Homo sapiens: one gene and its partners. The protein of the gene in region 3 purifies or fractionates together with the protein of the main gene of each other region. This does not show direct contact. Each region holds a gene or a part of one and is shown on either strand. Other genes may lie near its edges.

The links.
Region 1: the proteins of NDUFAF1 (region 3) and NDUFS1 purify together in Homo sapiens (affinity purification with mass spectrometry; one study listed by BioGRID and IntAct). This does not show direct contact.
Region 2: the proteins of NDUFAF1 (region 3) and TIMMDC1 purify together in Homo sapiens (affinity purification with mass spectrometry; 4 studies listed by BioGRID and IntAct, with this or other methods). This does not show direct contact.

The regions. Positions count from the first base shown.
Region 1 is NC_000002.12:206,124,896-206,128,548, reverse strand, and holds part of NDUFS1 (NADH-ubiquinone oxidoreductase 75 kDa subunit, mitochondrial isoform 1 precursor), read left to right. Parts: intron 1-576; coding exon 577-752; intron 753-1,704; coding exon 1,705-1,839; intron 1,840-1,937; coding exon 1,938-2,010; intron 2,011-3,653.
Region 2 is NC_000003.12:119,505,009-119,508,661, forward strand, and holds part of TIMMDC1 (complex I assembly factor TIMMDC1, mitochondrial isoform 1 precursor), read left to right. Parts: intron 1-3,653.
Region 3 is NC_000015.10:41,395,963-41,399,615, forward strand, and holds part of NDUFAF1 (complex I intermediate-associated protein 30, mitochondrial precursor), read right to left. Parts: intron 1,179-3,653; 5' UTR 1,098-1,178; coding exon 525-1,097; intron 1-524. UniProt on the Homo sapiens protein: As part of the MCIA complex, involved in the assembly of the mitochondrial complex I.

The DNA of each region.
Region 1 (3,653 bases), on a different chromosome or scaffold from region 3:
ACCTTGGCCTCCCAAAGTGCTGGGATCACAGGCATGAGCCACCACACCTGGCCCCCAAATGCTTTAACAATAATTTTCTTTGGGGCCGGGCGCGGTGGCTCATGCCTGTAATCCCAGCACTTTGGGAGGCTGAGGCGGGTGGATCACAAGGTCAGGAGATCAAGACCATCCTGGCTAAACACGGTGAAACCCTGTCTCTACTAAAAATACAAAAAATTAGCTGAGTGTGGTGGCAGGCACCTGTAGTCCCAGCTACTTGGGAGGCTGAGACAGAAGAATGGCATGAACCCAGGAGGCAGAGCTTGCTGTGAGCCAAGATTGCACCACTGCACTCCAGCCTGGGCGACAGAGCGAGACTCCATCTCAAAAAAATAATAATAATTTTCTTTGGGAAGGGAGTTGAATTAGGGTTGAGGTGGGCTTTAATTTTTATTACTTCACTACTGTTTCATTTTAGTTTTAAAAACTTTTGTGACTTTACAAAATGGGATTTAAAATGATATATACTATCTTCATGTACAGTAGAAAATCAGTTTTTAATAAAATTTTGGTTTACCATTTTCCATCTTTGTGCAGGACATCATGGTGATGTTGGGGCTCCCATAGCTGATGTTATTCTCCCAGGAGCTGCTTACACAGAGAAGTCTGCTACATATGTCAACACTGAGGGTAGAGCTCAGCAGACTAAGGTAGCAGTGACACCTCCTGGCTTGGCAAGAGAAGACTGGAAAATTATAAGAGCACTCTCTGAGGTATAATTTCTGAGTCATTTCTTAGTGATGCTACTAAAGGCATATTTGATATTTTAGCCTGTTAGAATGATTTTCAAAGTCAAGGAAGATGCCAGTCTGAAATGCAGAGATGATTTGAATAATTTCTATAGAAAACATGTATTCAGAAACAGGAATTCAAGGTTACAGTGAGCTCTCATTGCACCGCTGCACTCCAGCCTGAGGGACAGAGCAAGACCCTGTCTCTTAAAAAATAAAGGAACTTGAAATTGGTGCTTTTATTTTATTTTATTTATTTTTGAGACAGAGTTTTTCTCTGTTGCCCAGGCTGGAGTGCAGTGGCGTGATCTCAGCTTACTGCAACCTCCACCTCCCGGGCGCAAGCTTCCTGAGTAACTGGGATTACACGCATGTACCACCAAGCCTGGCTAATTTTTATATTTTTAGTAGAGATGGGGTTTCGCCATGTTGGCCAGGCTGGTCTTGAACTCCTGGGCCTCAAGCAGTCCTCCCACCTCGGTCTCCCGAAGTGCTGGGATTACAGGTGTGAGCCACTGCACCTGGCCTGAAATTGGTGCTTTTATTGTTGAAAATTGTTGACTTGTCTTTTGCCTGAAAATACATCTGTTAGCTCTTTATTGATGTAAAAGTAAGCATCCTGACTTTTAAAATAATAACACATTGTAAACTTTATGTATTTTAATAACAGGTTAGCAAAAACATTTGGATTTAGCATAGTATTGTCTCTTCATTTCATAGAGTCACTAATGTACTGACAGCTGTGAATGAATTAGAATTTTTGATATTTGTGTTCCCTGCTTAACTGCTTCCTTCATAAATGTATGTCTACTAATGGACACCAATAGGTTTTTCAGTAGTGCTGCATTATTTCACCATAGTTACAATTATCTATTATTTGATATTTTTAAGTATTAAAGCTTTTTGTTGTTTTTGGGGACCTGACATGTTGTAGATTGCTGGAATGACTCTTCCATATGATACTCTGGATCAAGTAAGGAACAGATTGGAAGAAGTCTCTCCTAATCTTGTTCGATATGATGATATTGAAGGGGCTAATTACTTCCAGCAAGCAAATGAGCTCTCAAAGGTAACAGCTCGCCTATGAGCAGTTTTCATAATGTTGTATCTACTGGTGTAACAGTACTAGTTTTCCATATTATTGTTGATCTCTTCTTTTTTGTGCAGCTAGTGAACCAGCAGCTTCTTGCTGACCCACTTGTTCCACCTCAGCTAACTATAAAAGACTTCTACATGACAGGTATGTAATTGTCAACATGACTCTGCCAAATACGAAAGGTAAGAAGTAATCAGATCACCTCATTTGGTGTTATAATTCCAATTTGTGATTGATAGTGTTTGCAATTCTTAATCTTTGAAGGTTTTCAAACATTGGAACTAACGTAAGCATATTTTCTGATTCTACTCTAGTTTTTTTGTTTCTGAAATGTAAGCAAAGTTTGAAAATCCAAGCAATTAATAGATTTTAAATATAAAATTTTGCTGTTGTAAGGAAAGTCACTGTGTAGCAATTTATGGTGAATTTTCCAAAGTGGCAAATAACTGCAGGTTTTTCTGAGAATTATAGGTGGAAGAATCAAAACATTTAAATGTGAAACATGTTAAACAGTGCTTCTGATGTAAATTGTTAGGAATGTTTTTAAGGAATGCAGACAAACTGAAACTTGTTTATTGCAGATTCTTAGAACAGTTGATACAACATCTAGGTTATGAGGTAGTTAATAGTTGATAGATTATTTTGACTAATTTTCTATCTAAAAGCACATAGAACTCTTAATTTTTTTATATAGTTTGTATCTAAGATTTTTTAAATAAGTATTTTAGTTAGATAATAAAGATTACCTTCATTGTAAAATAATACCTATGCTCAAAAGCACAACAAAAAATCACTTCTATGGTATTTATCTGCGAACTTATGAACACAAAGAAGGAAACAACAGACACTGTAGTCTACTTGAGAGTGGAGAGTGGGAGGAGGGAGAGGTGCAGAAAAGATAAGTCTTGGGTACTGGGCTTAATTCCTCGGTGATGAAGTATTCTGTACAACAAATCCCTGTGACATGAGTTTACTGGTGTAAAAAGCCTTCACATGTACCCCTGAACCTAAAAGTTTTTTTTTTTTTAAAAAAAGAAAAATCACTACCCTCCCACTATCAAGAAATAACTATAATTATTTTTAACATTTTAGTCACTCTTCCTCCAGGGACATACATATGCATTATACACATATATATTATATTAATTAACTATTGTTATTTATATGTAATTATTACTGTTTACATGTACGTGTGTGTGTGTGTGTGTGTGTATAATTTTTGAGATGAGATTTTACTCTGTCACCCAGGCTGAAGTGCAGTGGCACAATCTTGGCTTGCTGCAACCTCTGCCTCCTGAGCTGAAGTGATCCTCCCACCTCAGCCTCCTCGGTAGCTAGGACTATAGGCGCATACCACCACATCCAGCTAATTTTTGTATTTTTTGTAGAGATGGGGTTTCGCCATGTTACCCAGGCAGATCTCAAACTCCTGGACTCAAGCAGTCCACCCACCTCAGCCTCCCAAAGTGCTGGGACTACAGATGTGAGCCACCACCCCTGGCCTATATATTTTTTAGTGAAACAGAAGGTGAGATTAGGCCTGGTGCAGTGGCTCATGCCTGTAATTCCAGCATTTTGGGAGGCTGAGGGGGGCAGATGGCTTGAATCCAGGAGTTTCAGACCAGCCTGGGCAACATAGTCAGATCTGGTCTCTTTAAAAAAAAAAAAGTGAGATTATTCACTTGGGGGTTGATAGCTTTATTGAAATATAATTCATGTACCCTAAAATTTACTCATGAAGTGGACAATTCAATGTATTTTAGTACATATGCTGTTTTGTAACCTTT
Region 2 (3,653 bases), on a different chromosome or scaffold from region 3:
CAGAGGTTGCAGTGAGCTGAGTTCACGCCATTGCACTCCAACCTGGGCAACAAGAGTGAAACTCTTGTCTCAAAAAAAAAAAAAAAAAGTAGATTTTAAGTGTTCTCACCACAAAAAATAGTATGTGAAGTAACGTGTAGGTTAATTAGCTTAATTTAGCCATTCCCCAATATATACATACTGCAAAACATGTTATACACCATATGTGTACAATTTTTACTTGTCAGATTTAAAAAATAATTTTAAAATGAGCATTCGTTTCAGAAAGGTAAGTTAACTGCTATATACACTCAATCACTAACTTGTGTACATTCTTTTATGTACAACACACATATGTATTCTGAACATAAGTTTGTTTTTGTTTTTTTTTTTGAGATGGAGTTTTGCTCTTGTTGCCCAGGCTGGAGTACAATGGCGCGATCTCAGCTCACCACAACCTCCGCCTCCCAGGTTCAAGGGATTCTCTCCTGCCTCAGCCTCCCTAGTAGCTGGGATTACAGGCATGCGCCACCATTCCCAGCTAATTTTTTGTATTTTTAGCAGAGAAGGGGTTTCTCCATGTTGGTCAGGCTGGTCTCGAACTCCCGACCTCAGGTGATCCGCCCATCTCGGCCTCTCAGAGTGCTGGGATTACAGGCGTAAGCTACCACGCCCGGCCTGAACATAACAGTTTTTAAATGTTTTTTTGGGAATAAGCTTACAAAAGATTGCAAAATAAAAATAATACAAAGGGCAGTCTCTATCCTTCACATACAGAGACTTAGCCATTGTTAACAATTCATGCTGAGAATTTATCCGAAATTAAGTCAGACAACTTGCTTTATCTTCTTGCTACTGCATGCACTCTCCCTCTTCTCTGTGTATATGTGTACACACATGGGAAAACACACAATTTGAACTTTTTTTTTTAACTTTTAACTTCAGGGGTACATGTACAGGATGTGTAAGTTTGTTACTTAGGTAAACGCGTGTCATGGAGATTTGCTATACAGATTCTTTCATCACCCAAGTATTAAGCCTAGTATCTTAGTTGTTTTTCCTGATCCTCAAACAACATTTTAATGAAAACTTTTTAAAATACAAAACTAGAAATAGGCATTAATAGCGTTAGAGCAGCCAGATTGTTTCATTTTTAAATTTGCAAGCATTTTTACATGGGTCTTGTCTACCCACTTTTACTTCCTTACTTGCTCCTGCTGTTACGTTCTCTGTCAATTGTTAAATGTGAAAACCAGGCCAGGCACAGTGGCTCACGCCTGTAACCAGCACTTTGGGAGGCCAAGGTGGGCAGATCGCTTGAGTATAGGAGTTTGAGAACAGCCTGGGCAACAAACATGGCAAGACCGTGTGTGTGCAAAAAGTTATCTGGGCATGGTGATTCATGCCTGTAGGCTCAGCTACTCAGGAGGCTGAGGTGGGAGGATGGCATGAGCCCAGGAGGTCGAGGCTACAGTGAGGTGTGATCATGCCACCTCATTCCAGCCTGGGCGACAGAGCGAGACCCTGTCTCAAAAAAAAAAAAAAAACTAGAAACCAAGGAATGATATGGTTCTGCTCTTTTTTCTCTTTCCACTTCTTGTCCTATTAATTATACTCATTAAATATATATGGATTCTTTCACTTCTTTTTTCCCACTGCTACTATCTTATCGTCCCTGTTTCTAATCTTGATGTGCTCTACCTGTAACCTAGTTACATTTTTGAAATATGAATATGATTTTGCCACTTTTCTGTTTGAAATTCTTCTATAGTTTCCTGTCACTTTAATGTCAATTCTTGATCTGGCTTCCATGCGCCACTCTTTTGCTTTCACTTTACAATCTCCTCGGATTTCCCAACATGTTCTTTCCTTTTGTGAATCAGTCCCTCTTCTTGAATGCACTTTCCCACTACCACAATTAATTTTGTTCGGCTCCTACTTAACCTTACCTTTCAAAGTCCAGATCATTTGTCAGCCTCAGCTTCCCTAGAGAGTTCTCCCTAGCCATTTTCTCCCTAGCCATGTTTAGTTCTATTTAGCTGTCTTTCCCTTGTGTTCACATACTTCACTGTTTTTTTCTTTATCTTTGATTTTCTGCAGTTTGAAAATGATATGCCCAGGTGTAATTTTGAGGAACATTTACTGTGCTTGGTGTTTTCTGAACTTTCTGGATCTGTGGTTTGTTGTCTGACTTAATTTAGGATAAATTCTCAGTGATTGTTTCAAAGATTTCTTTAGCTTTCTCTTCTCCTTCTGGTGTTCTAGTACACTTATACCTTTTGTAATTGTTTCACAGTTCTTGGATATTTTATTCTGTGTTTGTTTGTTTGTTTGTTTTTGGTGGAGGAGGTTCCCATCTTTTTTCTCTTTGTCTTTCGGTTTGGGAAGTGTCTGTTGATAATGTCTTCAAGCTCAGGGATTCTTTCCTCAGCTGTGTCCAGTCTACTATTCTTCAGTTCTGTTACAGTGGGTTTTTAAATTTGTTTTATCGCTAGCATTTCTTTTTGATTCTCTCTTCGAATTTCCATCTCTCTGCTTATATTGCCCATCTATTCTTGCATGCTATCTACTTTATCCATTAGAGCCCTTAGTGTATTAGTCATAGTTGCTTTAATCTCTTCATATGGTAAGTCCAGTATCCCCACCATATCTGAGTCTGGTTTTGGTGCTTACTCTCTTAGTTTTACTTGGTCTCTTCAAACTGCTTTTGCCTTTTAGGATGCCTTGTAATTTTTTTTCTTGATAGCTGGACATGATGTACCTGGGTAAAAAAGGAATTATGGTAAATAGGTCTTTAGTAATTTGGTATTAAGATGTGGGAGAGGGAAAGTGTTTTGCAGTCCTATGATTAGGTTCTTAGTCTTTTAGTGAGCCTGTGCTTCTGAACTGTTAACTTCACAAGTGCTTTTCAGTTTTTTTCCTCTCCTTTGGTGGGACAGGATACTACAGTGGGTTGGAATGGGTATTTCCTTTCTCCCACATGGGAGGCTAGAGCAGTTGCATTTGGATATTCCCCAGGCTGGTTAATCTCTGACAAAACCCCAATAGTTTGGGCTGTGCAAAACCATTTATCTTGAGGGCAGGCCTTAGTGAGAATAACGGAATGTTCTGGCATATTTCAAAATGGTTACTTTTCTTCCCCCTTGCCAGAAGCCTGAGGGGATTTTTCTCAGATCTTTACTGGGAGAACTTGGTAGAGCTCCTGGAGTGTGGGGACCCTCTATGATTGGCTCCCCTACAGTTTTTAGGTCTTAGACTTTTCTACACTGAACTTCCAGCAATTTATCATTTATAGTCAAGGTTTCCTACTCTGGTACTGGTTTCCATGGAGGCTTCTGCTCGTGGGTTTCTGCTCTAATAAGGTGTGATTCTCTGTATTTATCTGTCTGTCTCTCCTATTTTGAGGGCAGCAGTTTACCCATGATCTCACTTCTTTGGTGGATCTAAGAAGAGTTGTCAGTTTTTCCATTTGTTTAGCTTTTTACTTGTTGTTAGGAATAAGTGATAAACTCTAAACTTCTCACATGCCATACCAGAAACTGGAAGTCTCCCTTTCCTTTTTGCCCCACATCTTGACAAGCTGATAAGAAAGCCCAAGTGCTACCTTGGTTGACACCAGCAGGAAGTTTCAACCATGCAAGCTCAGGCCTACATGAGGGAGCTCTTGCTCTAGC
Region 3 (3,653 bases):
CAGTAGTCCCAGCTACTCAGGAGGCTGAGGCAGGAGAATCGCTTGAACCTGGAGGGCGGAAGTTGCAGTGAGCCGAGATCACGCCACTGCACTCTAGCCTGGGCGACAGAGCAAGACTCCGTTTCAAAAAAAAAAAAAGAAAGCCACAGGCTAACCCTACATCCACTCTACAAAACCCCTGGTCATTACAGAGGTTGTGGTCTTTTTTAGAGGAGATGAAAATCTCTCCAAAAATCTTTCAAATGTCTAACCTCTCAGGATTCCTGAAACATAACAATGCTCGTTCCTGGCCCAAAGCAATGCGCAGAAACAAGTTAACTCCTCCTCCTCAGAAACCACTTCCCCCTTGTGCTTCCACTTCACACTTGTGCCAATAGTTACTTATCCCCAGACACAGGTGAGGTGCCAAATATAACATGCCAGGTGTTTTCATTTACAGAAACAAAAGCTATCTTCTATAGTTTATGCTACAATGAAGTTCACCCCTGTTTACTAGAAAACGATGGCTCCTGGGCCTCACCTACCCTTGGAATCCTGGATATCATTGCACAGTACCCACTTCGGGTAGACTCCCCGTCCTGAGGCGCCTCAGAGCTCAGAGTTCCATATAGCAGTGCACTTTGGTTATTCTTGCCCATTTTCAAAAACACTTCACTTCTGCCTCCAATCGTCTTATCAGAAGTCACTGTCCACTTATCCAAATCTTCTTTCCCCCGGAATTGCCAGACAACCTTGGCTTGTTCCAGCAAGACCTCATGCAGAGGGTGGCCTTCCGGTCCTCTCCAATGATCCACAATTTCATCCTTCAAAAGCCTAAAATGGTATATTGCTTCATCTCTAATTGCTTTATCGAAACTAACATCAGGCTTCTCCTCAGAAGAAGTTATATCCAAAGCAACTTCTTTCTGGTGATCTCCTTGCAAATCCCCTTCAGTCTTCCTCTGTGAGGAGGCTTTGCCAGGAGAAGCCACTGGTTTCTGAAGACTACTGGAATACTCTGCAAAGCGAATACCCAAAAATGGATACAAGGCAGAAGTTGGCTTAGAGAATTTTCTGAGAAAATAAGTACCACGCAGCAATTTGTGAACCAAAGCCATGGTACAAAAAAATCAAAATGTAAGTTTCTTCCTGGGCTAGCAAGGGCCACCAAGAAGCTTCAGCAAATAGCCCAATTCTACCTATAACAGAAGAGACATTGAAGAATTATCAGCATAGCAATGAATGCATCACAATTTCAAATTCAACAGAAATCAGGTATTTTGAAGTTTGTTAACTTATTTGTTTACTATTATTATTATTATTATTTGAGACAAGGTCTTGCTCTGTGGCCCAGGCTGGGTACAGTGGCACAATCACAGCTCACTGTAGCCTCTACTTTCTGGGCTCAAATGATCCTCCCATCTCAGCCACCCAAGTAGCTGGGATTACAAGCACACACCACCATGCCCAGCTAATTTTTAAATTTTTTGTAGAAATGGATCTCCCTGGCCAGGCACGGTCCCAGCACTTTGGGAGGCTGAGGTGGGTGGATCACGAGGTCAAGAGATAGAGACTGGGCCGGGCGCGGTGGCTGACGCCTGTAATCCCAGCACTTGGGGAGGCCGAGGCGGGTGGATCACGAGGTCAGGAAATCGAGACCATCCTGGCTAACACGGTGAAACCCCGTCTCTACTAAAAATACAAAAAATTAGCCGGGTGTGGTGGCGGGCGCCTGTAGTCCCAGCTACTGGGGAGGCTGAAGCAGGAGAATAGCGTCAACCCAGGAGGCAGAGCTTGCAGTGAGCGGAGATCCCGCCACTACACTCCAGCCTGGGCGACAGAGCGAGACTCTGTCTCGGGAAAAAAAAAAAAAAAAAAATTGAGACCATCCTGGCCAACATGGTGAAACCCCGTCTCTACTAAAAATACAAAACTTAGCTGGGTGTGGTGGTGCGCACTTGTGGTCCCAGCTACTAAGGAGGCTGAGGCAAAAGAATTCCTTGAACCTGGGAGGAGGAGGCTGCAGTGAGCCAAGATCGTGCCACTGCACTCCAGCCTGGCAACAGAGCGAGACTCTGTCTCAAAAAAAAAAAAAAAAAAAAACAGAAAGAAAGAAAAAGAAATAGATCTCCCTGTGTTGCCCATGATGGTTTTGAACTCCTAGGATCCAGTGATTCTCCCCTCGGCTTCCCAAAGTGCTGGGCTGTAGGAATGATGCACTGTCCCCGGCCTTTTTTTTTTCTTTTCTTTTTATAAGAGACTGGGTCAGGCCAGGTGTGGTAGCTCACGCCTGTAATCTCAACACTTTGGGAGGCCGAGGCGGATGGATCACCTGAGGTAAGGAGTTCGAGACCAGCCTTGACAACATGGTGAAACCCCATCTCTACTAAAAATAATCCAGGCGTGGTGGCAGACGCCTGTAATCCCAGCTACTAGGGAGCCTTAAGCAGGAGAATCACTTGAACCCAGGAGGCAGGGATTGCAGTGAGCCGAGATCACGCCACTGCACTCCAGCCTGGACAAGAGCAAAATTCCATGTGAAAAAAAAAAAAAAAGAGACAGGGTCTCTTGCTCTGTCACCCAGGCTGCAGCGCCGTGGCAAGATCGATAACTCATTGTAGCCTTGAACTCCTGGGCCCTGGACTGAAATGATTCTCCCACCTCAGCCTCCAAGGTAGCTGAGACTACAGGTGCACACCACCATGCCCAGCTAATTTTTTTAAAAAATGTTGGCCGGGTGCCGTGCATCACACCTGTAATCCCAGCACTTTGGGAGTCCAAGGTGGACGGATCACTTGAGGTCAGGAGTTCAAGACCAGCCTGGCCAAAATGGTAAAACCCCATCTCTACTAAAAATACAGAAATTAGTTGGTCATGTTGGAGAGCGCCTGTAATCCCAGCTACTGGGGAGGCTGAGGCAGGAGAATCACTTGAACCCAGGAGGCGGAGGTTGCAAGTGAGCCGAGATTGCACCACTGCACTCCAGCCTGGGTGACAAAAGTGAAATTCCATCTCAAAAAAAATAAAAAAACCAAAAATTGTAGCCCGCCACAGTGGCTCACACCTGTAATCCCAGCACTCTGGGAGTCTTAGGCAGGCAAATGACTTGTCGTCAGGAGTTGGAGACCAGCCTGCCCAACATGGTAAAACCCCGTCTCCATTAAAAATACAAAAATTGGCCTGGCACGGTGGCTCATGCCTGTAATCCCAACACTTCGGGAGGCCAGGGCAGGCGGATCACCTAGGACAGGAGTTCAAGACCAGCCTAACCAACATGGTGAAACCCCTACAGAAAATACAAACAATTAGCCAGGTGTGGTGGCCCATGCCTGTAATCCCAGCTACTTGGGAGGCCTAGGCATAAGAATCGCTTGAACCCAGGAGGCAGACGTTGCAGTGAGCCGAGATCGTGCCATTGCACTCCAGCCTGGGCGACAGAGTGACTCCAACTAAAAAAAAAAAAAAATTAGCTGGGCATGGTGGTGGGCACCTGTAATCCCAGCTACTCGGGAGGCTGAGGCAGGAGAATCGCTTGAACCTGGGAGGCAGAGGCTGCAATGAGCCAAGACTGCACCATCGCACTCCAGCCTGGGCAACAAAAGTGAAACTCTGTCTCAAAAAAAAAAATACAGGCCGGGCGCGGTGGCTCACGCCTGTAATCCCAGCACTTTGGG